Regions from separate parts of the Homo sapiens genome. Here region 1 is linked to region 2. Evidence: fine-mapped expression QTL. A gene starts in region 2. The other region holds a variant in brackets. All regions are shown on one strand. Distances are between the middles of the regions.

Evidence for each region. PIP is the estimated chance that this variant, and not a neighbour inherited with it, causes the effect. A credible set is the group of variants that fine-mapping cannot tell apart.
Region 1: its variant is the best candidate, but not a certain one, in a credible set for the expression of NAE1 in fibroblasts (GTEx, PIP 0.52).

The regions. Positions count from the first base shown.
Region 1 is chr16:66,903,327-66,906,229 of GRCh38, reverse strand. It overlaps LOC107984821 (a long non-coding RNA gene), which reads left to right and starts at 970. Exons shown (of 3, transcript XR_001752244.2): 1 at 970-1,139. RefSeq lists an enhancer at 573-2,903. The variant C/A (reference allele first, on the strand shown) is at 1,765.
Region 2 is chr16:66,829,205-66,832,107 of GRCh38, reverse strand. It overlaps NAE1 (NEDD8 activating enzyme E1 subunit 1), which reads left to right and starts at 1,132. Exons shown (of 20, transcript NM_003905.4): 1 at 1,132-1,261. The coding sequence starts at 1,209. RefSeq lists silencers at 1,172-1,396, 1,378-1,437, 1,448-1,657 and an enhancer at 908-1,408.

The DNA of each region.
Region 1 (2,903 bases), 74 kb before region 2:
TGTATCCTCAGCCCCATTCTGCAGAGGAAGGTGGCCAGGTGCGGTGGCTCATGCCTGTAATCCTGGCACTTTGGGAGGCCAGGGTGAGAGGATTGCTTGAAGCCAGGAGTTCAAGGCCAGCCTAGGCAACAAAGTGAAACTCTGTCTCTACATAAACAGAAAGAGAGAAAGGTGAGGATCAGAGAGGGGGTGTGGCTTATCCTGGGTCGCAGAGGAAGAGAGACACAAAGCTGATTGGTCTCTAGGCTTGGCAGTGGGCCAGTGAATGCCTGTAGAGATTAATGCTAGTGAGGCAGGCTTCATTCTGTAGGCAGGGCCTCGCCCCTGCTAGAGCAAGGTGGGGGCCAACCAATAGCTCTATGGGTAGAAGAGCATGTGTTGTGCTTATCCATGCGATGTGTTCCCAGGAAAACTGCTTCACCTCTCAGAGCCTTGGCTTACTTGGTGATACAAGTTTTTGTCGTTAGGAAAACTACATGAGATAATCCCTGCACAATGCATTTAGCACAGTGCCAGGCACTGCAGGGCTCAGTAAATGTGACTTTCCCCAGTGCATGGATTGTTGAGGGACCTACATCCCCGCACTTACACACACTCCCTAGAGGTCCCAAGAGGCCCAGGCTTTTGGGAGGGAGTTTGGAGAGGGGCCCCAGCTCCAGCCCCAAAGCAAGAGTGCAAGACACCCCTTCCAGCCCCAGCTCCCTTCCAGTGCCCAGGTGCTCTTAGGGTCTGTGATGTCCAGGGTCTCACAGGGTTCTGGGCTGGAGCTGGAGGGGGTTGAGGGGTGGGCCCCAGCAGAGGCCTCATGCTCCCCTTCTCCCAGGCCCCTTCCAGAGGCACTGGGCCAGATCAAAGGGACCCAGCACGGAGGATCAGGAGGCAGCTTGGAAAGAATGTAAACATGAGGATATTTTTAAACTTTTTCCAGCCCCAGCGATTAGGGCTCTTGAAGCCGGAGGCCCAGAGGTCAGTCTGGCCCTCACCCACAAAGAAAGCAACAGTCTCGGGCCCTCAGAGACCCCACCCCACCCACATCTACCTACACCCACCCAGGACTCTAGCTGGGGCCTCGGGGCAGAAGTTCTTCCTAGGGTGTCACCTCCAGACACACTGCTGCGGCGGGAGGATGCGTTTCTAATGTGAGGGCCTCAGCGGCATGGGACCCTGACTTAAGGGGTGGTGGGGGCCTACCAGACAGGGCTGATGTTGGAAGACTGAGCTTGGGAGGCTTCTTAGTGGCCCAGTCACTCTACCAGGCGTGTGTGCACACGTGTGTCTGTGGGTGTATAAGTATATGCTGCAGTCTGGTCTGTGTGATGCACGCATCGGAATGTGTGAGTGTGCGAGGAGCTTGCCTCGGCCCACCCTTCCTCGTTCTTCCCTAGCATCCCTGACCTCCTCCCTGGGACCCCTTTGGTAGGTGGGTGACATGGGGGGGGTACAAAAGAGGAAGAGTCGCCTGAGAACAGGGAGGACGCGAGGAGAGAAAGGCGCCAGAGCCGGGGGCGAGGAGGCTGGGGGTACCAGGTCCGGGGCCATGCAATGAGTCAGGCTGTGAGAGCTGCAGGAGTCACTGATGTGGGGACTGGGACTCGGCTCCCTCCATCACCCCCATGTGTCACAGTTGGAGATGAGGCTCCCTGGATCTCCCGATTCCGGTGTCACAACTACGCTCACCATGGGTTCCATGACAACAGCCTCTTACCTTGTAGTCACGCAGCTACCCTCACACCCTCACAGGAGTGTCACAGGACTCATGCAGGG[C/A]CCCCCCAACACCACCCAGTGGTCGTATCCCAGTGACCCCTATCTGTGAGACATGAGGACCCTCACTGTCTTCACATCCCCACTGACCAGAAAGCCAGAATTCACAGGGGCACTCAGAAGCCAGACTAGACTGTGGTCACCAGGACAACGGGGTACCCAGCCCCTGGAGAGGCCTCGGCTGGCTATCTCATTCTCCAGGGGCTGCTGTGCCACCTTGCCCTGCTTGTGGGCCCTGAGAGGGACAATGTCCAGCTCCATGTCATACAGCTCCCCAGTGAAGGGCAGGGCTCAGGCCCCAGCTCAGGATCAATGTGGCGATGGCATCCCCTCCAGATTCCCCCTGCTGAGGCAGCAGCCACAAGGGATGAGGCTTGGAGTTTTACCCTAAGATGTGGTAGGATTTTGGGCCCAGGATGATGGGGGAGCTAGGTGGGGCTGGAACTGATGGAAAGGGGAACCTGGAGACTCATCCTCAGTCTGAGGCTGAGGCTGGACACCTAAAGACATGGTTTGTGTCCCTGTGGGTGCCCACTCACTGGGGCTGTTGCTATTCTTATCCACCTCCCAGTGGCGGTGGCAGTGGTAGTGGCAGTAGGGTCAGAGATAGCTGCTACGTGGGAGAGAGTCATGAGCACCAGCCCTTTATCTGACACATTCCCTGGAAACTTGGCAGGGCCTGCCAGCCTCTGGGGGCCTGGGCGGGGCAGGGCGTGAGGTGGTCACAGGGATAGGATGAGGGGGCTGGGCTGGGCTCAGTGCCGATGAGGACCCGCTCCAGCTGCCTCTCCCACAGCCAGGCAAGGTCCCCTCAGAATTGGCCTGGGGGGTTCTAGTGAGATTTCTTCCCATGCGGAGACTAAGACCACAGGTCACCCTCAGCTCCTACTCACCCTCAGTCCAACCCAGAACACCCCACCGTTGGCCCCATCTCTGAGCTTTGGGCACTCCAGAGAACAATGTATTGGCTTCCTCAGTGATGTGGCTTCTTCCACGGGAGAGCACTGAACTGTGAGCCACAGTGGCCCCATCTGGTGGCTGTCCTGCCTACTTCCCAGCCTCGTGATCTTGGGCAAGTCAATTCCCATCTCTGAGCCTCAATTTCCTCATCCCTCTCCTGGGCTGTGGTGGAGATGACAGGG
Region 2 (2,903 bases):
CTGTCCCAACTGTCTCTCAAACCTTCTCAACCACTCCCTATCCTTCACCTGACCAAACTTACTCTAGCACCTACAGCTTGCTATGCCTTCTTTGCTTCCTAGAGATGGCACCTGCTGTTCCTTATGCTTAAAACACCCTTCCAGCTGGGCACAGTGGATCATGCCTATAATCTCAGCACATTGGGAGGCCAAGGCGGGCAGATCGCTTGAGCCCAGGAGTTTGAGACCAGCCTGGGCCATGACGAAACCCCATCTCTACAAAAAATGTACAAAAATTAGCCAGGTGTGGTGGTGCATGCCTGTAGTCCCAGCTACTTGGGAGGCTGAGGTGAGAGGATTGCTGCCTGGGAGGTTGAAGCTGCAGTGAATTGAGATCACACCACCGAACTCCAGTCTGAGCAATAGAGAGAGACCCTGTCTCAAACAAAACAAAACAAAACAAAACAAAACACTCCTCCATCTCCAAACCACATGAAACATTCTTGGAGAGGGGGACTGGGGAGGTTCTTCTGTGCACCCCTGAGCACCCTGCTTCCCTCTATCTAGAGGAAGGCCACATTGTCTGGTAAGTGCTTGTTTGCTGTCCCTCTTCCTTCATGAGACTAAACTCTCCAAGAACAGAGCCCTGGACTTGTCTGCATCTGCAGCAGGGAGCCCCTAGCTTTGTGATTCAAAATAGGCTTGTGGGCTTTTCATGAGAGGAAGAAATGGGTGAAAAATAATGATCATCAAAATGAAAGTTATTATTCATGCAAGATTTGGGGGGAGTCTGGCCTCCTGTATTCAAAATCTCATTTAAGGTCAAAAGACACTTGGGACCCATTTATCCCCACTGCACAGGTGAGCACACTGAGGATTTGAGAGGTAAAGAGTAGATCTCACAGCCAGTTAAGTGGTCGAAATACAAGTATGCCTGATTCCAATGCCCCAGTCGCCCCCAATTACTGCATGGACAGAGGGCAAATTGGCAGGCTAGCGGGTCTGCCTTTCTGGCCGATGGGGACCAAGAGCCCCAGACCCGCTCGGGTACCAGGGCCGCTTAGGCCCCGGCGTACCGGCGACGCGTGCGCAGTGCAGTGCGGCGCCCCCTGCAGGCAGCGCGCAGGAGACGGTAGCGGCGAAGGGGCGCTCAGTGCGCCTGCGCGCTTGTGGAGCTGGTGGCGGCGCTCCGCAGGGGCTCGGCTGTTTTCCGCGCGGCAGGCGCGGCCATGGCGCAGCTGGGAAAGCTGCTCAAGGAGCAGAAGTACGACCGGCAGCTGAGGTGAGCCGAGGCTCACCGAGCCGAGGGCGGGCCGGCGGGCTTTCCAGCATTCGGGCCGGGCCTAAGGGCGCGGGCGGCGCGGTCGGGCCTTCCTCAGGCCTTCTTCCAGGCTGGGCCGGGCCGTGCGGGGCGCGGGAAGCCGGCGCTCGGAGCTCCCGCCCTGGGCCAAAGGTGCTCCGCGAGGGCTGGGACCCCTTCCCCCGCCACGCGGTGTGCAGTTCGGGGGACGGGGTCCCCAGCGCCAGCCGGGTAGCTAAGGCGGCTGCCGGCCCCGTTGCGCCCAGGCTCCTCGTTTTCCGAATGGGGAGGCCCGGGGCGCACCGCATCCCGGCCGCGAGGGCGGCACAGAGGGTTAGGTTTTGTTCTCAGCCAGCGCTGTCCAATGGAAATAAAATGCTAGTCTCATGTGAGCCGCAAATGTAATTATAAATTTTCTAGTAACCACACTAAAGGTAAAATGAAACAGATGAAATTGATTTTTAAATACAATTTAACCCAATATGTCCAAAACATTACTATTTCAACACAATATAAAAAGTTCTTGAGATATTTTACTTAAATTTTTATTTTTATTTTTATTTTTGTTTTTGTAGAAACGAGGTTTTTGCCACCTTTCCCCAAGCTGGTCATGAGTATTTTCCTTTTTAAAACTGTCTTGGAGGACCGGCACGGTGGCTCACGCCTGTAATCCCAGCACTTTGGGAGGCCGAAGCGGGCGGATCACCTGAGGTCAGGAGTTCGAGACCAGCCTGGGCAACATGGTGAAACCCTGTTTCTATTTAAAAATTCAGAAATTAGCTGGGCGTGGTGGTGCGCGCCTGTAATCCCAGTTACTCTGGAGGCTGAGGCTGGAGAATCGGTTGAATCCAGGAGGTGTAGGTTTCAGGGAGCCGAGATCGTGCCACTGCACTCCAGCCTGGGTGACAGAGCGAGACTCCGTCAAAAAAGCCCCCCCAAAACTATCGTATAAATATTGTATTTTACACTTACCAGCACATCTCAGTTAACACTAGCCTCATTGCTTGTGCTCAGTAGTACATGTGGCTAGCAGCTACCTTAATGGACAGTGCAGGCCTAAGCCATCAGGAGGGTCCTTGGGTACTTCCCCACCCTTGCCTTTTCTCCTTGCACTACCCATTCCTTATTTATTGAGCGTCTTCTGTGTCTTGAGGCTGTGGAGATAACAAAGCTGCTCAGCTTTCCTCCTTCCTGGAGCCTCTGAGACAACAGAAGTTATATGTCCCCAAGGACTGGAGCTTCTGTTTGCGCCACCAGCCTAGTGCTGTAGTAGAGGCTTTAGGCACTTAGTTCTGAGAGTACCCTTGAAAGCAACCATTTCCTGTGCTTTACAGTTGGAGAAACAGAGTCTTGGAGAAGTTAGGTAATTTGCCCAGAGTTCCCCATATCTTTGAGCCAGGATGTAAACTAAGGCTCTTCTGGCTTTTTCGGAGGTACTCAGTTACATCCTGCTTCCAAGCTTTTCGGAGAAGAAACAGGGTAACAGTCCTTATAACCAACTTAGGTTTTCTTGTAAATTCTTGGAGTTCTTGTGTTTCTAATGCAGGTATAACTGTACATGACAGAGCTGAGAAGATAGTTGAGGTTACTAAGCAACTCTAACAAAAGAGGGTTTTTGCTGAGG